Homo sapiens: one gene and its partners. The protein of the gene in region 3 purifies or fractionates together with the protein of the main gene of each other region. This does not show direct contact. Each region holds a gene or a part of one and is shown on either strand. Other genes may lie near its edges.

Region 1 (3,518 bases), on a different chromosome or scaffold from region 3:
CTCTTGCCTAGATGAGTGACCATACTTTTTTCTTTGCTGCTTGGTTTTTCTATCACTAAAAAGCAAATTTAGGTGGAAGATGGATGGGTAAGTCCTTTGTCCTTGTCAAAAGAATTTAGAAAGGGTAAAGGTGGTGGGATTTGAATTCTTTTAAACGGTTTATTCATTGGAAAGGCAAGTGAGTGGCAGTTGACTGTAGAATCTTGGGAATTTTTGAAGGAATTTAAGAGCTGTACTTATTTTAAATAATGAGGAAACAATCAGAGAGACTTAACCAGGGTGGCAACTATGGAAGAGTGGGGGTAGAATCCAAGTCTACAGTTCTACGGCACTGCTTTGTTTATTTTTTCAATCAAGCACACATGAGGGATTGCTTAATAAATTCAAGAGTTTTCTATATAGTTTGGGATTACTACAGACACAGGTACTCTAGCCATGTGACTATTTCAGATTAGTGTTCCCATTGCTCTCCATCCTATTTTTCATATCTAAATGTGTCATGATTTTAGAATCTCTTTGTAAAGAAAACCAAAAAGAGCCATGCCCAAAAGAATGAGCATGAAATGAAGCAATTCAAGTATTTAGAATTTCTTCTTCTTTTTTTTTTTTTTTTTTCAAAATTCTGAGTTAAGAAAGTTCATTGCCAACAGTTGAGGATAAATAGCTCTATTGATTTAGGCAAATGAATGAGAAGATTTAAACATCATCAAGACTCCCAAAGTTGGTGTAATAAAAGTTGAGATGTTTTGCTAGATGCTGAGAGAAAAGGCATAAATAGGCCATTTGTGCTCCTGTAAACAAATGAAATTTTGTAATGATCAAGAGACAGCAAGATATTATAAAACACACTTTGGACTCATCGAGACCTGGCTCAGAGTTGTACCTAATTTGCTTATCAGCATTTGGTTAGACCTTAGACAAATTTTATAACCTCTCTAAGCCCATTTTCTTTATCTGTAAATAAAGGAAAAAGATCTGTTTGGATTTGGGACAGGAGAGTTGTCTGTTTTATAGGGTAATGTTTATGAAAATAATTTATCACCTAGGTACTTAGTAAATACCAGTTTCTGTCTCTGTTTTTCTTCAAAGCTTTGTTGACAATGTAGGATATTGCCAACTAATCCTTTGACTTGAGTGCTTAGCCATGCCCCAATCCAGGCAGCATGAAGAATGATCAAGAAGGGGACACCTAGTGGCAGTTGACCTTTGAGGATCTATCTAGGATCAGGTTACTGATTTGGGACCTCTGAATCAGTACATCATAACATCGAGAGTGATCTCTGCCAAAATTAAAATTCTGTCAGAACAGTATAAGCAGAAGGAAGACATTAGGTCTTTCTGAAATATGGAGCTGATAACTTCTATCAGTTCTGAATTCTGTACTGTCCCACCCCCAAATCATCTATATTGTTGCATGTGCTTAGCTTTGTGCCTTGAATTGCTATTTCCTTTTTATCTTGCACTCAGATGGTATTTTTAGAGATGTTTCTTCAATCAAAACAAGATAAAGTTAAAAAAAAAAAAAAAACAGTGACCCTTTTGCATAAGCCAGAAGAGCAGTGCCTTGCTTCCTGTGAAAAATGCTTGGCAGTTAGCCTGTGTAATTATTTAGCAATCATGTTAATAGATGTTTAAGAATAATGGAACTGGAGCTGTACTGAGCCAAGGATGGAAATGAAGACATGTGAGACTATTTTTTCTTCATCCACCGATACTCTTCAGTTACAAGGATTTAATTTAAAAGGGTTTTAATTAAATGGAATCCAGAAGCTTTGGACGCTCCAGTTTTTCTTCTTAGAGACAAACCCTAGCTCAGTTTCCTGGAGCTTGACTCAGAATGCAGCATGGTACTCCGGACTGACAGTGTGCCAGCTTTATTCACTTATCTCTCTACCTTTTGGCTTGCGTTTATTTCAGGGCTGCCTGACATTTTGACCTTATGTACAAAGATGGCCGATACGATTATTTTTCATCATATATTACAGAAAATACTACTCTTGAAAAATACTCTGAGAAATATGTTCTATGGTCAGATAAGTTTGGGAAACAGTGAATTATTGTTCCTCCTTTGCAGAATCACAATGCACTGTTAGCTAATTAAAGACTCTCAGATGTCCCACTGGAAAGAATCATGTTTAGCTTTGTTTAACCTAGCATTTCCCAAACTTATTAGAGCATAAAACTTTGTTTTTGTTTTTTTTTAATAAGATAGGTAGCTATTTCCTTAGAACACAGTTTGGGAAACTTTTTGTTCATTTGTTTTAATAAGATACCTTAGGTAGCTATTTCCTTAGAACACGAGCCGGGTGCAGTGGCTCACGCCTGTAATCCCAGCACTTTGGGAGGCCCAGGCGGGCGGATCACCTGAGGTCAGGAGATCGAGATCATCCGGCCCAACATGGTGAAACCCCGTCTCTACTAAAAAGACAAAAATTAGCCAGCCATGGTGGCAGGCACCTGTAGTCCTAGCTACTGTGGAGGCTGAGGCAGGAGAATCACTTGAACCCGGGATGGGGAGGTTGCAGTGAGCTGAGATGGCGCCACTGTACTCCAGCCTGGGCGACGAGCAAAAACTCCTTCAAAAAAAAAAAAAAAACATAACTTAGGTAGCTATTTCCTTGGGAACCAATATCTTTACATTGGCTAGAACTGTGAATCGCCCTTTAAAGATAAAGCCCCAAAATACATTTTTTTTCCCTACAGGTAACCAGAGGGTGAAGTAACAGCCGAAGAGGAAACCAGAAGTGAAGTGATTTGTACAAAATGTCGTAGTGTAATTTATTGAGTGTCATGTGGTATTAATCGCAACATCCTGAAAATGCAAATGAATAAAAGTTTGGTCAATGTACCATGACATTCCTTCATGTGAGCCTCCTAAGAAAAGGTCACTGAGCATTCTCTGTTTACATTTTAATTTTAGACTCCAGAATTTCACACTAAGTTTTTCTTCTCATTTCTTATGCAGTAAAAGAAGAGTTTGTATTTCCAATGTGTCTGGCTTTCTGTTCTTTAGTTTTTGTTTCCTTAAAAAGTTTAAACTCCAAAAAGAGAAAAGGATTACTTAGCATAACCAATAGAGGTGGTCTGGAAATAATAAAAGAAAATGAAGGCAAATATAAAACATGAAGACAGTTTCCTCGCATAAGAATATTTAACACACAAGGACCCCAGCAGTTACTTTGCATTAAGCATACTGAATTCTTTCTTGATCTCCAGAATAACTGTCCCCACAATCCTCTTCCCCTCTACCTTTGATTTAACATTGTGCACTCTCTCTATTATACTTATCTTTGTGTTGCAACCTAAGTTCAAGAACCTCAAAGGTAGCTGCTTCTCTTTGAAAGATGCCTGGTTTAATATAAAAAGCTCTTTTAAGAGCTGAATTTATTGACATTTTTCGAAAAACAGTTCTGGATGGGAAGTGATCCTTTTCTACTTTAGTTCACTGGTTCATTTGGGCCATTTTTGATTGGTTGGTTGGTTGGTTGCTTAGTTTTTTCCATCTGGTTTCTAGTTCA
Region 2 (7,623 bases), on a different chromosome or scaffold from region 3:
ATCCCAGCACTTTGGGAGGCCGAGGCAGGTGGATCGCGAGGTCAGGAGTTCAAGACCAGCTTGGCCAAGATAGTAAAACTCCGTCTCTAATACAAAAATTAGCTGGGCTTGGTGGCGGGCACTTGTAATCCCAGCTACTCCAGAGGCTGGGGCAGAGAACTGCTTGAACCCGGGAGGCGGAAGTTGCAGTGAGCTGAGATCGCGCCACTGCACTCCAGCCTCAACGACAGAGACTCCGTCTCAAAAAACAAAACAAAAACAAAAAGAAACAAACAAAAATTAGCTGGGCATGGTGGCGGGCGCCTGTAATCCCAACTACTCGGGAGGCTGAGGCAGGAGAATCGCCTGAACCCGGAAGGCAGAGGTTGCAATGAGACGAGATCACACTACTACAGTCCAGCCTCCGCAATAGAGCAAGACTCAGACTCAAAAAAAAAAAAAAAAAAAAAAATCTTCAAATGGCACCTGATATCCTGCAGCTGTACATCCCAAACACAGAATCTAAGATTAACGCTGATGAAATGAGTACGGAACAAGGACAACTTTGTGAATTTTTTCTAAAGTTAAAGTATTCAATGGATTGTTTATTGTGAGATTTTGCTTCCTGCTTTTTTGGTGTTAAAATATCCTTTTGTTTATGAAAAGATAGATGAGTAAATGATAGTTTTTAAGAAACATCTCCACCTAGTAAACAGAAAAGTTGGCAGAACTACAGCAGCTGAGTTTTATTTTATATTGTAATGGCTCAATACAAAAATGTCAGGGAAACACTGAATGACCGGAAATCCAAGAAATCCAAAAGGCAAACAAGGCCCTCACTGATTTATTTCCTCTCACTTTCCCAGACGTTTTGCTCCAGCAATATAAGAGTGCAAGGATGTCCAGCATACAACCTACTAATTATTTCCCTTTCCTCATGCTTTCCCATGAATGGAATGACCTCAACAATTTCTTCTCTTCTTCATATACTCATTTTATTGAATACATCCTATGTGCCAAGCACTAGATATAGGGTAGTGAACAAAAGAAAAACATCACTGTTTTCAAGGAACTCATAGTCTAGTGGAGGAAACAGACAACAAATCAAGATAGAATTTAAAAGGCCGATAAGTACGTCTTATGGAGAATGCAATGACGAAGCCCAAAAGTGAAGGCAGGAAGGCTAGTCAGGAGGCTACTAGAGTTCAGGTAAGAGATAACTCTGATTTGGATTAGGGTGGAGGCCTAGAGATATCAAAATGTGGAGCTGACCGGACTTGCTACCAAGCAGACAGTGGCTAAAAGAAATAAACCCCAAATGACTCTGGCACAAGTGTCTCTTGGTACCAACCTGGGCTAGTCTAGTCGGCTAAAGGATAAGAGACCACACGGAGAAAAGTCAAGAGGAGACCATGTGAAAGAATCTTAAACAAGCTTATAGTCTGAGACCCTACCCCCACCCTCCAAACATATGAGGAAGTCCAGCCAAATGAGCAGAGCTTCCCAGCAGATCCATTACTGAACAAGGATGCATCAATGAGCCCAACTAGGACTAGAAGAACCACTCAGCTGACCCGTAGACTTGTGAGCAATAATAACTGCTTCTTGTTTTGAGACACTGAATTTTGGCTTCACTTTCTAATGCACTAACTAAACATGGTGATACCATCTACTGACATGGGGTGACTGGAAGAAACACGGTGGCAAAGAGGAAAAGGAAAAAAATAAAAAGAAAAATCAAGCTTATCCTCTCTCATCCTAGTCAACTCTTAACCTACCCTTCAAAGCTCAACTTAGATATTAACTCCTCCAAGACGCCTTCCCAGATCCCCAGACTAGTTTAGGAAAGATATTCAAGTACTACCATTGTATTTTGTACATATCCCTATCACTGCCTTCCCATATTGTTTTACAATTATCTGTTTACAATTTTCTTCCTAACTAGCTAATAGTCCTCTTTTGTTACGGAAGGTGTCTTGTTCATTTTGATATTATCAGGACGTAACACAAAACAGGTACTCGGTAAATATTTCTGAATTTAATAAATCAATTAGCATAAACTTATTTTATACTTTAATGTCTGTTATTATAATTAACTGTAGATCACTATTTCTCAAAGTGTGATCTCTGAAAACATGCATCAGAATCAGCAGGGGTGTGAATTTTAAAATGCAGATCTCTGGGCTCTATCATAACGAAAATGCCGTTAAGTTGTAAAAACAAGAGTAAGGATATTCTACCAGCTACAGATAAAGCAAGGAGTAGCAGTGTGGGAGTAAATCCACTTTTCCTCACTATCTTCTAGAGATGTTCTCTACCAGAGTTCTTAATGTGCCAGGAACTGAGTAATTAAAAATGCTATGACTGGAATGTAGTTTCTCTTCTAAGAAACGGCTCTCGGTCAGAGGAAACAGGAACTGGGGGTCCTCCAAGGAGGTGTGGTTTCTCAACGCACACGTTCACAAGCGATGCTCCAGGAGGAAGGAATGTTCTCAGCGTCCCCCGAAACAGAAGCCAGGCTGTGGACACACAGCAGCCAGAGCCCCAGGCACTACCCGCACGCCAGCCCTCAGACCTCAGACCTCAGAGGCTGGGCTGCTGACGGAGGGGGCCCAGGGTCCCGTTACCGAAGAGCGCGCGAAGGCGGCTCCCACCGGGTTCTGGGATGGGCATCATTCCCCAGAAGCAGCGGCCTCCGTGAGTCCACGCAAGCCGCCACGGTGGCTTCGCTTGCCAGTCAGAAAGAAAGAAATTGCGGGAAGGGTCAGGCCGGAGGCAGCCGAAAGGGGAAAGGAACGGAGTACGAAGGGCGCCGCCGCTTCCCACCTGCGTCAAGCTCCAGCTGGTAACAAGGCAGCGGCTCAAGAGAGAGCTTGTAACCCTCGAAGCGGGGATCCAACAGAGGTCTCTTCACCCGTAGGGAGCAATTAGCCGCCACCTCCATCGCTTTCCAGGGCCGCAGCGTGAGAATTAATAAAGCCCTTGTTGAAAGGTCCGCGCTTCACGCCTCGCACAGAGACTGGGAAGCGGCGTGGTTCCCATCCCAGAAAACACTGCGGTGCGAACTGCCTTCTGGGAAATGTAGTGTCCGTGAAAAAGTTGAGACTGTTGCATGCTGGGCTATGTAGTTCTCCTGGTACTTAACGCGCGCGCGACGGCAAGGTCTGAACTCTGTTACCCAGAGGCCCTAGCAACCAGGAGGCGGCCCGCGCTGGTTAAATTCTCACATTATAGGCAGGGTGGCGAGACCCCGCCCCGGAAATGCGTGTTCTAGCTTTCTGTGTGCTTAGGTGCCCGAGCTACTGAGGGTCTAAGTCCGGGCAGCCGAAGAGTGTGGTAGGTAACGGTCCTCAGCGCAAGGGTCATTTCGTCGCTGGGAAGGGACGGCCCTCGCCCGCGGTGATGGTGGTGAGCTATGCCCGTGGTCCTCAGGGCCGGGACCCGGGCCCAGCCCAGGCTCCTTTCGATGTACTGTCTTTCGTTAGCGTCCCCGACCCGCGCTCGCGGGCCTGTAGGGCTCTCCGACAGGGCGTGCTACCGGAGTTGGCCTGAAACCAGTCCTCGCTTTGTTTTCTGGCTCCTCCTCTCCCGCCTCTCCCGCTGTCTCCGCCCTGTTCTATTTTCCCTAAGAATGTCTGAACTGGGAGGGATACCCTAGCGCCCTTGTTTTACCAGTGAGAAAACTGAGGCCTTTAAGAATTAAGTGACTTGTCCAAGGTCACTATCCGTATTTTAGGAGCCAAGACGAGATCAAGTTCAATATTCCAGGAGTGGTACTGACTAGACCTTGTAGTTATTTTGAAAATGTTAGCCTCCAATTACAAAAGCAAGCATTTCCTAGTTCTCACTCAACTTCTCCTTTTCCCTGTTCCTCTCAAAAAAGAAAAAAAAAATCAACTCTGGTAACTCATTGCCAGTCTGAATTTTCAATAGGCCAGATGGAAGACAACAAAAGTAATCTCAAGTTAGTGACAGATTAGGTGGGAAAACGTTAGTTTACGCCAAGTTTTATTTAATTTAAACTTTTAAGTGGCTTTAACGCTTTCAAAACCTAACTTTCCTCTTCTTTCAACATCATTTTGGTTTGGGTTGTCTGTTTTTACTGACAATTGAGGACTTTGTAAGTTAGGAATTAGTTTGAGATTTGTTTTCTTCTTATCCCACCAGCAGTGTGTGTGTAAACACACACATCCACACACTTAGGTTTAGCAGTTGTAATTGTGGGTTCATCCTAGTGAAGAGTAAAGCAAAACACTTAGAGCCTTATCTAGTAATTTTATTTTTTTTGATTAATTAATTTTTTTTTTTTTTTTTGAGACAGAGTCTTGCCCTGTCACCCAGGCTGGAGTGCAGCAGCGCAATGTCGGCTCACTGCAACCTCTGTCTCCTGGGTTCAAGCGATTCTCCTGCCTCAGCCTCCTGAGTAGCTGGGATTACAGACACCTGCCACCAAGCCCAGCTTATTTTTCTATTTTTAGTAGAGACGGGGTTTCACCATCTTGGTCAGGCTGGTCTTGAACTCCTGACCTCGTGATCCACCTGCCTGGGCCTCCCAAAGTGCTGGGATTACAGGTGTGACCCACTGTGCCCGGCCTGGTAATTTTATTTTTTTACTAATAGTATTTAATCTTTTTTTGATGTTTAGTATGTATGACTTCTCCCAATTTTTGGATGCAGTCTCTGCAGAAGTGATCGGCAGTTATGTTCAGTTTTGGAGCTCCTAGGGTCAAAGTACTTGAGTTCAAATTTTGCCTTTCCACTTTCTATCTCTGTGCCTCAGTTTCCTCATCAGTAAAATACAGATTATTTTATTAATATAAATATGTAACAATACGTTCTGGGAATTAAATGTGATGTTTAAAAAAAAGCAAACCCACACTGCATTAGCCCAGTGCCAAGCACATAAGTGTTTAATAAAGAGTAATGATATTATTAACACACTTGAAATGTATCACCCCTTCAGTTAATAGAATGGTAAACATGTTAGGATGCCTGCCTAGAGGATTTAGCAGAAAATGCTTTGTAAATGTTCTATATCTGAAAGTACATGTTGATGTCCAGGTTAGCAAGATGAACAAAGATGCGCAGATGAGAGCAGCGATTAACCAAAAGTTGATAGAAACTGGAGAAAGAGAACGGTAAGTAATAGATTGTGTTAATAAATTACATTTCACCGCCTTTAATAGTTAGCTTGTAAGAATCTAAACAAGAAATGAAACATGTCACTGGAAAGAATTACAATTGAGATTATAAAAGTTTCTATTCCGAACATCTGGAAAAAATAATTTAGGTTTGTTAAGTATTGCAGGACTTGGAGGGAAGTGGTGATGTAGAAAGATGAGCAAGATATGGCTCTTAAAGAGTAATTTGATGGAGAAGAAAAAGTACATACCTGAATTACAACTGGAGACATAATGTTACCTGGGTTTTAACAGGGAGACAATGTTGTGGAACCAGCTTCATTTACCAAGCTCTCAACCTTGGAGCAGCAAGTGCTGTTTCCACTCTCTAAAACATTCTTCCTTCTCTTCCTTTTTAGCTAATTCTAGCTCAACTATCAGGTCTAATTTATATATTGTCTCTTCAAGGAATGTTTTTAAGTCCCAAATACCTTGTTCCATCATAGCATTTAATCAACATTGTGTTCTAACAATCTACTTGGCTAGTTTGTATCCTCCAGTATAATCTAAGTTCTTTAACACCAAAAACAACATTGTATACCCAGCATCTAATGCTTTGTTTGGTTCATAATTGGCCACGTAAATATTTGCAGAATCAACAGGTTTAGAAGTACAAAGAAGGGGCTGAGGAATCAAGAAAGGCTCCCAGAGGCAGGGTTATAAAGTGAGTAAGACAAATATGTATAAGGAAGAGGCAAATATGTATAAGGAAGAGGGGGAATCTTTCAACTCAACCCGGGCATTCAGGTGATCATGTAAGATCTCACACAATAAGAAAAAGAGGTGCATCTGTTGCTGACTTTATTTTTGGATGATGGGAGTCATTTAAAGTTTTAAGAAAGGAAATGACTAGATCACATTTACACTTTAGGAATCTTACTCTGTTGGTGTGGAGCTTGGACTTGAAGGGGACAAGATAGATGGCAGAAAAATGAGGTAGAAGATTATATAGGGTTGAAAATGGAAAACTCCAAAAATTGGAAGGAGACCTTAGAATTTTAATAAAATGTAGAAACAGCAACCCTCAAAATGAGGAAGGAGGCATCGATAACTGCCTTGGGTAGCTTTAGAGGATAGTACTGCTGGTAAGGAGTACGGATTGTATGTTGTTTTTTTTTTTTGTTGTTTGTTTTTGATTCATGCAGCTTCAAGTTACTGAGTTTCTATCATATGCCATGCCCTGTTAAGGTGTTGGAGGTAACAGTAGTAGACAAAAATGGAGACTTTGTTTTCACAGAGCTTGCATTCTAATGGGAGGAGACAGATAAAACTGTGTAATAATGTCAGATGGTGATGAGCACTAGAGGAACAATAAAGCAGAAAATAAAGAGGTGTAATATTTTAGATAGAAAAAACAAAGAAGAAATCAGAAGGAGGCCGTGCATAGTGGCTCACGCCTGTAATCCCAGCACTTTGGGAGGCTGAGGCTGGCAGATCACAAGGTCAGGAGATTGAGACTATCCTGGCTAACATGGTGAAACCCCATCTCTACTGAAAATACAAAAATTAGCCATGCATGGTGATGGGCTGTAGTCCCAGCTACTCAGGAGGCTGAGGCAGGTGAATCGCTTGAACTCGGGAGGCGGAGGTTGCGGTGAGCTGAGATCGCGCCACTTCACTCCAGCCTGGGTGATAAGAGTGAAACTCCGTCTCAAAAAAAAAAAAATCAGAAGGATATGAGGGTGAGCAGGGACTCTTTAAGTTCCTGAGATAGGAGCTTGCCTTTCATTTTTGAGGAGCACAGGGATGCTAGGGAGACTGAGTAAATTGGGTGAGGGAGAGTGGAGATTAAGTCAGTGGCATAGCTGGGGAGAAGGCAGATCATGAAGGATCATGTAGGCTGTAATAAAGTCTTGGAGTTTTATTCTGAGTAAATTGGGAAGGCACTGGAGGTTTTTGAGCAGCAGGAGAAGAACTAAGTGTACAAGGGAAGAAGCAGGGAGACAACCTAGAATGCTATGGTAATATTCTAGAGAAGAGATGATGGCTTGAACTAGAGTAGTAATGGCGGAGATAGTGAGAAAGGTGAATTCTAGGTATATGTTTTAAATTGAACCCAATAGGATTTGCTCATAAATTGGATGTGTAGTGTTAACAAGGCAGCTGAGTGGAAGGATACTACAGAGATTCCTAGTCTGAGGAACCAGAAGAATGGAATTGCCATTCTCAGAAGAAGAACAAACAGGATGAATTGGTAGAAAATCAAAAGTTGGATTTTGGCCCTATTAAGATTGAAAGACCTAATTAAATATTAAGATGAGAATGTCACATAGTGGATGTCTAGGGATAGTGAAAGTGGTTTGCAGGGAAAGAGAATTTGTTTGGGATGTGACATTTTTAACCTGAGAAGTTAAATGATTTAGGTTGAGGATTGAAGATTTGTAAAAGTGGATATGGCAAAAGGATAAGAAAATATTTTATTGCACCTGTGATGCCATTAGTTGCATATACACTGCCACTTTTT
Region 3 (4,253 bases):
GGATGTGTTGGGCACTGTCATTGTGAAAATAGACCTGTGAAAGCTGAGTGGGCTCATATCTTTTGTCCTATCTTGATAGACACAAGCTGGATGTTGTTTCCTGTGGCAAGTCCACAGTCCGAGTGCAGAAGGCCATCTGCAGTGGGTTCTTCCGTAATGCTGCCAAGAAAGACCCGCAGGAGGGTTACCGGACACTGATCGACCAGCAGGTGGTCTATATCCATCCTTCCAGTGCCCTCTTCAACAGACAGCCAGAATGGTAGGTGGACATGTCCCAGGGTCTAGGGGCTTTTCTGGGCAGAGAAAAACCTGTAAATTTCCTGGTATTTTGTGATTGTGTCTTCACTACTCCCAGTATGTCCTAGTATAACACTGCTTGCCTTTCTAGAGCAGCAGAAACCTGAATTAGGCACAATGTATCAAACCCTATGAGAGAATTAAAATCATAGGGGTGAGACCTAGTTGAAAAAAAAAATTGTGGTTTAAAAAACTACGTAGTGGCCAGGCACAGTGGCTCATGCCTGTAATCCCAGCACTTTGGGAGGCTGAGGTGGGCAGATCAGCCGAGGTCGGGAGTTCAAGACCAGCCTGACCAACATGGAGAAACCCTGTCTCTACTAAAAATACAAAATTAGCCAGGTATGGTGGCGCATGCCTGTAATCCCAGCTACTTGGGAGGCTGAGACAGGACAATCGCTTGAACCCAGGAGGTGGAGGTTGCAGTGAGCCGAAATCACCCATTGCACTCCAGCCTGGGCAACAAGAGCGAAACTCCATCTCAAAAAAAAAAAAAAAAAAAAACCAACTACCTAGGGGCTAGGCATGGTGGCTCACGTCTGTAATCCCAGCACTTTGGGAGGCCGAGGCAGGTGGATCACCAGAGGTCAGGAATTCCAGGCCAACCTGACCAACATAGTGAAACCATGTCTCTACTAAAAATACAAAGTTAGCCAGGCGTGGTGGCAGGCACCTGTAATCCCAGCTACTTGGGAGGCTGAGACATGAGAATAGCTTGAACCCGGGAGGCAGAGGTTGCAGTGAGCTGAGATTGTGCCATTGTACTCCAGCCTGGGAGACAGAGTGAGACTCCGTCCCAAAAAAAAAAAAAAAAAGAAAGAAAAAAACAACTACCTAGTGATGTAGTTTAAAAAAAAAAACTTGTTTTAAAGTAGCATTTTTAAAAAATTGGACTCTATCTAGAACCCTAATATAAAACTGATTTAAAACCACCATGTTATCACAGTAGAAGGGTTAGAAATGTGGCTCCTTGCATGTTTGGCCTTCTCCATCCCTTGTGGCAGTGTGAGGCCCCTCTTCAGAGCCCTAGAATTCTGTGGAAACATTCTAATAAACATCCTCACATTTTATAGAGCAAGAAACAGATTAGAGAAGGGATGTGATTGGCTCCATGTCACTTAACTAGTTAGAGCCAGAGCCAGGACTAGAATACATTCTCCTGAGACCTTTCTTGTGGTTAGAGGTGTGCGGGTGCTTCAGTATTGGGGTGTGGCTGTCATAAACAGACTGCAGTCTTATAGGTGTCAGGCAGGAGAGGTAATAGTATAAAATGTAAGCTCAGCTGAGGCCTACTAGGGACCAGGTTGACTGTAGAGTGGGGCCTATATCCAGAGGCTTGAGTACTATCTCTGTCCCCCCTCAGGGTGGTGTACCATGAGCTGGTGCTCACCACCAAGGAATACATGCGTGAAGTTACCACCATCGACCCTCGGTGGCTTGTGGAGTTTGCCCCAGCCTTCTTCAAGGTCTCAGACCCAACTAAGCTAAGCAAACAGAAGAAGCAACAGCGTCTTGAACCCTTGTACAACCGCTATGAGGAACCCAATGCCTGGAGAATATCTCGAGCTTTCCGACGGCGCTGAAAGGCAAGATTGTTCCTTTGCCTCTCCAGCAGCAGTAGCCAGGGCTTGGACTTATCGATGACAGGCTGGTCCTGAGGATACAGCTGTCCCGTGACTGACTGTCTTAACTGAGCATTTTCTCAACTCGACTCTCATTTCTTCCCTGCTGGTAAAATAGAAACAGGGATTTAAACCTGGCTTTGGCAAGAGCCTGCAGCCTCCATCACCCCAAGTCCTTGGGCCCAGTTGGGAGCTCATATCTAACACAGAGACACATTGCATCAACTTCAAGAAAGGGACAATTTGTGCAGCTCCAGGATGGGAAGGTGGAGTGGGTGAGCATCTTGTGCAGGGACATGGTGAGTGCCCTGATGCCCCAGCTAGCAGGAGCTACTGTGCTCATCTAAAGTGTTTGCCCCACTTCCCACCCCGTCTCCAGCCCCTGTACTTTGGCTTGACCTCGTGGAAATATTTATTTTCTTAAGGAAACAAAAATGGTTTTCTGTGACTGTTTTCTTTTAGCCGAAAGGTTAGGATATTGGCCTGGGCTCAGGGTGAGGGAGATTTAGTATCTGTGCTCTGGCACACATGATGAGAATCCCCTGAATCCCCTGAAACCAGAACGCAGGGCCTCTTTGCGCTCGGAAACGACGTACAACCCAGACTTCCAGCCTTGTCTTTCAGCATCAGCACTAGCCGGGCCGTGCTGGGGGATCACCCGATGATCAACCATGTCCTCTCCACAGAGCACTTCAGTCTGGAGGCCTGAGTGGCTACAGATGGCACATATTAAATACAGAAGGTTTCCCCTTGCTCCCTCCACCTCCCACATTCGCAATGTGCAGCATGTCCCATTTCCTTTTGAAACATACTAAGTAACAACACAGCTTTTATTTTATTTTGTTTTTATTTTTTTCCCCTGAGGTCCTGGATGGACTTTAACAAAGGGATTTTATGGTCAAAACCTCCCTTTCCCCACTCCAAACAGAAAACAAACATAACACCTCTCCTCTCAGCTGGTTTGTGCTGCCAGTATCTGTGCTGCAGGGCTTGTTCTTAGTGGTTTTTTCCTAGCACTTGCTTGGAGAATAGCCACCTCCTTGTGCCCTCCTCACAGCTCCTGAGGAGGGTTTTTTTTTTTTCTTCCCATAGAGATGGGTTCCCACTGTGCTGCCCAGGCTGCTCTCCAATCCCTGGCGTCAAGCAATCCTCCTGCCTCTGCCTCCCAAAGCGCTGGGATTACAGTTGAGAGCCACTGTCCTCTGCACTGAGGAGGCTCCTTACCTGGCGGAACATCAGGCAGGTCTTGCCAGGCCAGGTTTCGGAACTTACGGAAAGCTGGTCTGGATGTAGTGCTTGTAGAGAAGCTTCTGAGAGATTGGGCACATCCTGTTACGTTGCTGCTTCTCCTGTCCTTATGTTATTAGTAAGTTCTGAAGTGATGTAAATGCTAGAACTACTGTAGAACTGTATGCCAGACACTAAGAGAGACTATGTAACATTCCAGGATATAAAGGAATGTATGTTGTCACTGGGCAGCAAACCACACCCTAAAGACAATTCAGAAAGAGTCCGAGGGAGAGGAATATAGGCCAGGCAATCTGCTGGCTGCAGATCCCTGCCCCTTCATTAAGCTGAGTGCCTCCTGATTCTGTCTGAGTATTCGCCTTTGTAAGCCCAGGCCAGTAATCAAGGGGCAGGGCATTGTTGTGTGTTAACCTTGAAGGCCTTCTGGGGAGAGACAGTACAGGGACCTCAAATGAAACCAAAGGGGAAACGGGGACTGGGCACCCACCTCCCCAATCTCGTTTTGTTTTTGTTTTTGTTAAGACAGGATCTTGCCATCTTGCCTAGGCTGGCATCAAACTCCTGAGCTCAAGTGATCTTCCTGCCTCAGCCTCCTGAGTAGCTGGGACTACAGGTGCATGCCACCACACCTGGCTCCCAGTCCTAATTCCAGCCTAAATTTTCCCCATTCAGAAACACTCCTGGATATAGTGGCCCAGCCTGTCCTGACTGAGTGCCCAGCACTGACAATGTTGACACCTGGGGAGGGAGGGTTGGGTTTCAAGCTGAGGTTGAAAAGGGATGTTGAATGGGCTAAGGATAAGAGACAGCAGGGTTCGTTATCTTTTCTGGCTCAGGTGGAGGAAAAAGAAGGATCCCCATTCTGTGGGTGTTCCTTGACCATCTCTCTACGCTAGAGCTGAGGTCACTTCTCTGCTATGACAACATAGCTGGGTTCTGACCTTTTGACCATCAGGAAAGCAATGTCAGCAGCTGAGCTGAGCCTGCTCTGAGGGAGAAGGGGGGGGTCCTGTCCAGATGCAGAAGGGGAGCTTGCCTGCTGCTCTCACACAATGGAGCCCTTGTTTCTCTTCCTTGAACCAGTAT
Region 4 (7,057 bases), on a different chromosome or scaffold from region 3:
GCTGTGCCCTTGCGGGTCAAGGCTAACCCAAAAAGTCCACAGCTGGTCTAGTCAGGACTGAGGCTGGACCAGTGGAGCCAAGGCAGGACCCACAGGGGGTTGAGCCTAACCCAGTGGGGCCAAGGCTAGACCAGTAGGAACCGGGCTGGACCAGTGGGGCTGAGGCTGGTTTGACAGGGCTTGCTTTTGCCCAAGACACTCATAAATGGGTGGGGGGGGACGCCCCGAAGCCACTGAATCGGGAGGTGGGCGTAGCCCTGCCACCCCACTGACTGCCTGAGGGGTGGCTCGGTCCCCAGCTGAGTCCTGAGAGTGCAGAGGAGTACATTGAGTACCTCAAGTCAAGTGACCGGCTGGATGAGGCCGCCCAGCGCCTGGCCACCGTGGTGAACGACGAGCGTTTCGTGTCTAAGGCCGGCAAGTCCAACTACCAGGTGGGCCTGCCGGGAGCCGGCAACTGGGTGGGAGGGCCACCCCCTCCATGACTGAGCCTGAGACTCTCCCCCACTGCCCCATGCCCTGCAGCTGTGGCACGAGCTGTGCGACCTCATCTCCCAGAATCCGGACAAGGTACAGTCCCTCAATGTGGACGCCATCATCCGCGGGGGCCTCACCCGCTTCACCGACCAGCTGGGCAAGCTCTGGTGTTCTCTCGCCGACTACTACATCCGCAGCGGCCATTTCGAGAAGGTGCATGCTGGCACACGGGGCTCTGGGTTCGGGGCGGGGTCTCCCTCCGACACTCGGGGACACATGTTGACACATGCACAGGCAGAAAACATGCCATTTATGGCTGGGTGTGGTGGCTCACACCTGTCATCCCAGCACTTTGGGAGGCCGAGGCGGTAGGATCACTTGAGGTCAGCAGTTCAAGACCAGCCTGGCCAACATGGTGAAACCCCATCACTACTAAAAATACAAAAATTAGTCAGACATGGTGGTGCGCGCCTGTAATCCCAGCTACTCGGGAGGCTGAGGCAGGAGAATCGCTTGAACTTGGGAGGTGGAGGTTGCCGTGAGCTGCGATCGCGCCACGGAAGTCCAGCCTGGGTGGCAGAGCGAGACTCCATCTCAAAAAAAAAAAAAAAAAAAAAAAGTGCCATTTTTGACAGACATGCATATCCCTGCACACGATTACTATCCTGCTGAGGGTGGGGGAGCACTCCTGCCCGCAGGCACGTCAGCCTTGGAGTCAGCCACATTTGCGTTCAGGGTTCACCCTCTGGCTCTGCGGCCTTGGCCCCACTAAGGTGGGGTGTCTTCATTTGTAAAATCAGGGTGACAGTTACTGCCTGTCACCAATCAGCTCAGTGACGCAGGCACAGCACTGAGGAGGTACGTGGTGTGAGGGCCACTCCCTCAGGGGTTAGCTGACTGTGGCTCTTGGCAGGCAGTGGAGTGGCAAGCTCAGGGGATGGCCTGGGGGCAGGTGGGTGCAGAGGGGGCCAGAGCCGAGAGCGGGGAGGCTCAGGAACCCAGGGAAGATAGGTTGGGAGCCTCGAAAGCCAAACGGGCTGGCCATGCTCCTGGCTGGGGGAGCCGCCAGTGGGGTGTGGGCGGTATGCGCTTCGCAGCGCCCCTTCCAGGGGCACGTGTAGGCCAAGGCTGTCGGAGGCAGCAGGGCAAGACCCGTCAGGGCTGGGTAGAGAGAGGGGACCTGAGCTGGGGTGGGCGAGCCAGGTGGAGGACAGGCGGGCTGGGGAAGAGGGTCAGGCAAGCGAGAGGGACGCTTTGGAGCAAATTCTGAGGCCTCGGAGGATGAGCTGAGGCGAGGGTCCCTGCAGGGTGGACCCATAGGCGCTGGGGGGTTTTTGGCCACCTATTGGGTGCCAAGTGCTTCACACATGTGTCTCAGTCGAGCCCTGAGGTCACTGTGTGCAAAGGGCAGTCACCCAGTTTACTGAGGAGGTCCTGAAGCTCCCAAGACCACCCTGGCAGTGCAGGGCAGGGCGGGGGTGAGAAGGCTCCACGGAGGCTCTGTCCTGGGGTCACTACCCAGAGGTGCTGGATGCGTCACTACCCAGAAGGCCCCCAGGGGTTCCACATTGAGGCTGGTGCTAAGAGTGCTGCTGCCTGTCCCCTGCGCCACTTTCCTCTCACCTCCCCTTCCCTGGGTCCCCACAGGCTCGGGACGTGTACGAGGAGGCCATCCGGACAGTGATGACCGTGCGGGACTTCACACAGGTGTTTGACAGCTACGCCCAGTTCGAGGAGAGCATGATCGCTGCAAAGATGGAGACCGCCTCGGAGCTGGGGCGCGAGGAGGAGGGTGAGCCTCTGGGGGCCCCGGCTGGTGGGGAGAGAGCTGAGTGGACATTAGCGGTAGGGGCGGGACACATCTCAGGTGAGGCAGCCCTGGGAGGCTCAGCTGGGGGCCAGCAGGGAAGGAGGCTGAGTGGATGCAGGGGGTGTGGGGGTCTTGAAGGAGCCAGGAATGGGGACACTTCTCAGGCCTGGGCCAGAGCCTGGCAGGGCAGGAGGGCTAGGGGAACAGTGGGGGTAGGAGGGGGTATCCACAGTACCTGGGGCTGGGGGTGGGGCTCAGGTGGACACCCGAGCTGAGTGTCTAGGGCCCAGAGCACTTGGCTGGGGGCTGGAGCGGAGTGAGGGTGGGGAGTGGAGGCGGTGGCATCCGGGGACCTGCATCCTGGGTCTCCGCCCCTGACAAACATGTTCGCGGCTCCCAGATGATGTGGACCTGGAGCTGCGCCTGGCCCGCTTCGAGCAGCTCATCAGCCGGCGGCCCCTGCTCCTCAACAGCGTCTTGCTGCGCCAAAACCCACACCACGTGCACGAGTGGCACAAGCGTGTCGCCCTGCACCAGGGCCGCCCCCGGGAGGTACATGAAGCCTGCCCCAGTCCTACCCCTGAGGGCCAGTTTCCTGCAGAACTGGGGAGCCACCCACCTTCACCCATAATGTCACCTTCTAGGGGCCTGACTTTGCTTAGTAGGTCCAATTCCACCCCTGTTCTTGGGGTTCTCCTCCTGCCCGAGCCCCGCCCCTCAGAGCCACAGTCCCTCCTGGCCCCACCCCTTGGAGGGCCACAGCTCCCTCGTGGCCCCGCCCCTTGGAGGGTCACAGCTCTCTCCTGGCCCCGCCCCTTAGGGCCACAGCTCTCTCTTGGTCCTGACCATTGTCAAGGGCCATAGTTCGTTTCTGGCCTCTCCCGACAGGGGCCACAGCACCCTCCAGGCCCCACCCCTCAGAGCCACAGCTCTGCCCCGACCGTCATCTGCAGGGTCCTGAGTCCTATATGACCTCCTCCCTCCTGTCCCCAGATCATCAACACCTACACAGAGGCTGTGCAGACGGTGGACCCCTTCAAGGCCACAGGCAAGCCCCACACTCTGTGGGTGGCGTTTGCCAAGTTTTATGAGGACAACGGACAGCTGGACGATGTGAGCACCCTGTTGCGTGTGCCTGTGTGTTCATGCATGTGTGTGTGCTTGTATATGTGTGCATGTATGTGTGTGTACATATTTGTGCATGGATGTGTGCACGTGTGTGTGCATGTGCATTTGGGTGCATGCATATGTGCACGCATGTGTGTGCCTGTGTGTGTGCCTGTGTGTTTGTGCCTGTATGTTTGTGAGCATGGTCACCTTTCTGACCCTTGATGGTGGGAGCTGTCCAGGTGGGCAGGGTCTCAGCCTCGCCTCTGCCCGCCCCGGCAGGCCCGTGTCATCCTGGAGAAGGCCACCAAGGTGAACTTCAAGCAGGTGGATGACCTGGCAAGCGTGTGGTGTCAGTGCGGAGAGCTGGAGCTCCGACACGAGAACTACGATGAGGCCTTGCGGCTGCTGCGAGTGAGAACAGGCCCAGGCTGTGGGGTGGGGGCTGCAGGTTGTAGGGCAAGGGCCAGGGACAGCCCCTGAGCGCCTCCCCGGCCACTGTCTGCCCCTGCAGAAGGCCACGGCGCTGCCTGCCCGCCGGGCCGAGTACTTTGATGGTTCAGAGCCCGTGCAGAACCGCGTGTACAAGTCACTGAAGGTCTGGTCCATGCTCGCCGACCTGGAGGAGAGCCTCGGCACCTTCCAGGTGAGCTGCCTGTGGCTGGGGAGGGACGGGGCCCCGGACTCAGCTCCAGAACCAGCTCCAACCTTTCCCATCCCCACCCCTGCAGTCCACCAAGGCCGTGTACGACCGCATCCTGGACCTGCGTATCGCAACACCCCAGATCGTCATCAACTATGCCATGTTCCTGGAGGAGCACAAGTACTTCGAGGAGAGCTTCAAGGTGAGGGGCTAGGGTGGACCCAGAGGCCCCTGATGGCAGTGTCCCCTCCCCAGGGGTCCTCAGCAACTTACGAATCTGCTGGGGCTTGTGTGACACAGTATACAGACTGGGTGACTTAAACAACAAAGATTTAGCTTCTCCCCGTCCTGGAGGCTGGAAGTCCAGGATCGAGGCATGGGCAGGGCTGGTTCCTCCTGAGGCCTCTCTCCTTAGCTTACAGACAGCCGCCTTCTCCCTATGTCTTTGTGTGGCCTTCTCTTTGTGTGTGTCACTTTTGAAATTTCCTCTTCTTATAAAGGACATCAGTCATAATGGATTAGGTGGCCCCTAACGACCTCAGTTTAACTTAGTGATCTCATCTTCAAACGAATCTACTTTCTGAGGTACTGGGGGTTAAGATTTGAGCATATGAATGTTTTGAGGGGGGCACAGTTCATTCCATAGCAGGCACAGAATCCTACTTCCACGTGCACCCATGACTCATGGGGAGGGTGTTGGTGCCAGTGTGTGCGGGCTCTCCCTGCCCCGCTGCTCAGGAGACGGGTTGTGGGGTCCAGGGGGTGGGTTGCGTGTCCGTGGGAAGGCCATGTCCCGCGGCCGGAGCAGTCATGTTTGAGTGTGTGTTTCTATGGATCGTGTGGGCATTATACAGATACACAAATGGGGAGGTCGTACATGCATACGCGTGCTACTGCCTGCCCCTCTGTCAGGGGGTGCGGCCTTCTCCCTGGGGACAGGCAGCCAGCGTCAGCGGAGCTGGGGAGCCACCCACCTTCACCCATCATGTCACCTCCTATGGGGCCAGACTGTGCTTAGCAGGTCCCATTGCACCCCTGTTCTTGGGGTTCTCACAGAGGGAGACAGTGCAGAGGACAGACCCCCACAACTGCCATTAGGGACAGGGAGGCGTGGACAGGGAAGGGCCCCAAGGGAGTTCCTGGCAGGCTCCCTACAGACGCCACCCAAGGACATCCCGGGTGCCTGGTGGTCTCTATCTGCAGACTCTCACATGTGACTCTCCCTCTGGTAACAGGCGTACGAGCGCGGCATCTCGCTGTTCAAGTGGCCCAACGTGTCCGACATCTGGAGCACCTACCTGACCAAATTCATTGCCCGCTATGGGGGCCGCAAGCTGGAGCGGGCACGGGACCTGTTTGAACAGGCTCTGGACGGCTGCCCCCCAAAATATGCCAAGAGTGAGGCGGGCAGAGGGCATGGGGGGGGTGGCGGGCGGGCTGGGTTTCTGACTGGCCCCGGCTGACCGTGCTCCCCTCTCCCCGCCTACCCCGCCCAGCCTTGTACCTGCTGTACGCACAGCTGGAGGAGGAGTGGGGCCTGGCCCGGCATGCCATGGCCGTGTACGAGCGTGCCACCAGGGCCGTGGAGCCCGCCCAGCAGTATGACATGTTCAACATCTACATCAAGCGGGCGGCCGAGATCTATGGGGTCACCCACACCCGCGGCATCTACCAGAAGGCCATTGAGGTACCCACCGTGGGGGGCTGGGCCGGGGCCAGAGGTCCCTGAGCAGACGGAAGGGGTCCAGGCAGGTGGGAGGGGCTGAGGAGGAGCCTTCTGGAAGCACAGGGATGGCCATGGTGTGTTGGGAGCCCCCGAGCTACCCCGGCCTCACTCCCGGCCTCCCCAACCCCGGTGTCCAGGTGCTGTCGGACGAGCACGCGCGTGAGATGTGCCTGCGGTTTGCAGACATGGAGTGCAAGCTCGGGGAGATTGACCGCGCCCGGGCCATCTACAGCTTCTGCTCCCAGATCTGTGACCCCCGGGTAGGGCTGTGGGGAGGGACGGGTATCAGGGTTGGGGGCTGCGGCGGAGTCAGCCAGCTCACGGGCACACACACCCACCCCTGCCCTGCCCCCCACGCAGACGACCGGCGCGTTCTGGCAGACGTGGAAGGACTTTGAGGTCCGGCATGGCAATGAGGACACCATCAAGGAAATGCTGCGTATCCGGCGCAGCGTGCAGGCCACGTACAACACGCAGGTCAACTTCATGGCCTCGCAGATGCTCAAGGTCTCGGGCAGTGCCACGGGCACCGGTGAGCCGTCCCAGCTGGCTGAGTTCCTGATCCAGGGCATCTCAGCCCGGCCTGACCTGGGCTTTCCGGGTCTGGGAGCCTCGGATCCTGATGGCAATCTCCTTGAGGGCTGGGCCATCACCTGGGGGACTGGGATAGTGCAACGTCCGATGTGTGGGAGGGGCCCCCGTGGCGCTGACCCCCTGCTCCCACCCCCTAGTGTCTGACCTGGCCCCTGGGCAGAGTGGCATGGACGACATGAAGCTGCTGGAACAGCGGGCAGAGCAGCTGGCGGCTGAGGCGGAGCGTGACCAGCCCTTGCGCGCCCAGAGCAAGATCCTGTTCGTGAGGTGAGGGCGGATCCTTGGACGGGACAGGACTGGGACAGGTCCCAAGGGGGCCCGGGGTGGGGAACTGAGGCAGCATGGCCCGTCCCTAGGAGTGACGCCTCCCGGGAGGAGCTGGCAGAGCTGGCACAGCAGGTCAACCCCGAGGAGATCCAGCTGGGCGAGGACGAGGACGAGGACGAGATGGACCTGGAGCCCAACGGTGAGGGCCCGGCTGGGGCGGGGACGGTGGCATTACCAGGGTGGGCCTCGGGGGACAGGCCAACGCCAGGAGGGTGACTGGCTCCCGCCTTCCCCACAGAGGTTCGGCTGGAGCAGCAGAGCGTGCCAGCCGCAGTGTTTGGGAGCCTGAAGGAAGACTGACCCGTCCCTCCCCCATCCCCCCTCCCCACCCCCTCCCCAATACAGCTACGTTTGTACATCATGGTCTGAGCCT

The links.
Region 1: the proteins of DHX8 (region 3) and AQR purify together in Homo sapiens (affinity purification with mass spectrometry; 4 studies listed by BioGRID and IntAct, with this or other methods). This does not show direct contact.
Region 2: the proteins of DHX8 (region 3) and NUDCD1 purify together in Homo sapiens (affinity purification with mass spectrometry; 5 studies listed by BioGRID and IntAct, with this or other methods). This does not show direct contact.
Region 4: the proteins of DHX8 (region 3) and XAB2 purify together in Homo sapiens (affinity purification with mass spectrometry; 4 studies listed by BioGRID and IntAct, with this or other methods). This does not show direct contact.

The regions. Positions count from the first base shown.
Region 1 is NC_000015.10:34,851,253-34,854,770, reverse strand, and holds the end of AQR (RNA helicase aquarius), read left to right. Parts: 3' UTR 1-2,989; downstream 2,990-3,518.
Region 2 is NC_000008.11:109,331,088-109,338,710, forward strand, and holds the start of NUDCD1 (nudC domain-containing protein 1), read right to left. Parts: upstream 3,001-7,623; 5' UTR 2,924-3,000; coding exon 2,806-2,923; intron 1-2,805. Other genes in the region: transcription and mRNA export factor ENY2, read left to right, coding at 3,382-3,387, 5,041-5,117.
Region 3 is NC_000017.11:43,521,968-43,526,220, forward strand, and holds the end of DHX8 (ATP-dependent RNA helicase DHX8), read left to right. Parts: intron 1-79; coding exon 80-259; intron 260-1,660; coding exon 1,661-1,880; 3' UTR 1,881-3,703; downstream 3,704-4,253.
Region 4 is NC_000019.10:7,619,513-7,626,569, reverse strand, and holds the end of XAB2 (pre-mRNA-splicing factor SYF1), read left to right. Parts: intron 1-299; coding exon 300-434; intron 435-525; coding exon 526-690; intron 691-2,124; coding exon 2,125-2,269; intron 2,270-2,687; coding exon 2,688-2,839; intron 2,840-3,280; coding exon 3,281-3,400; intron 3,401-3,676; coding exon 3,677-3,808; intron 3,809-3,908; coding exon 3,909-4,040; intron 4,041-4,125; coding exon 4,126-4,239; intron 4,240-5,272; coding exon 5,273-5,435; intron 5,436-5,533; coding exon 5,534-5,724; intron 5,725-5,900; coding exon 5,901-6,023; intron 6,024-6,123; coding exon 6,124-6,295; intron 6,296-6,494; coding exon 6,495-6,624; intron 6,625-6,713; coding exon 6,714-6,823; intron 6,824-6,922; coding exon 6,923-6,984; 3' UTR 6,985-7,045; downstream 7,046-7,057. UniProt on the Homo sapiens protein: Involved in pre-mRNA splicing as component of the spliceosome. Involved in transcription-coupled repair (TCR), transcription and pre-mRNA splicing.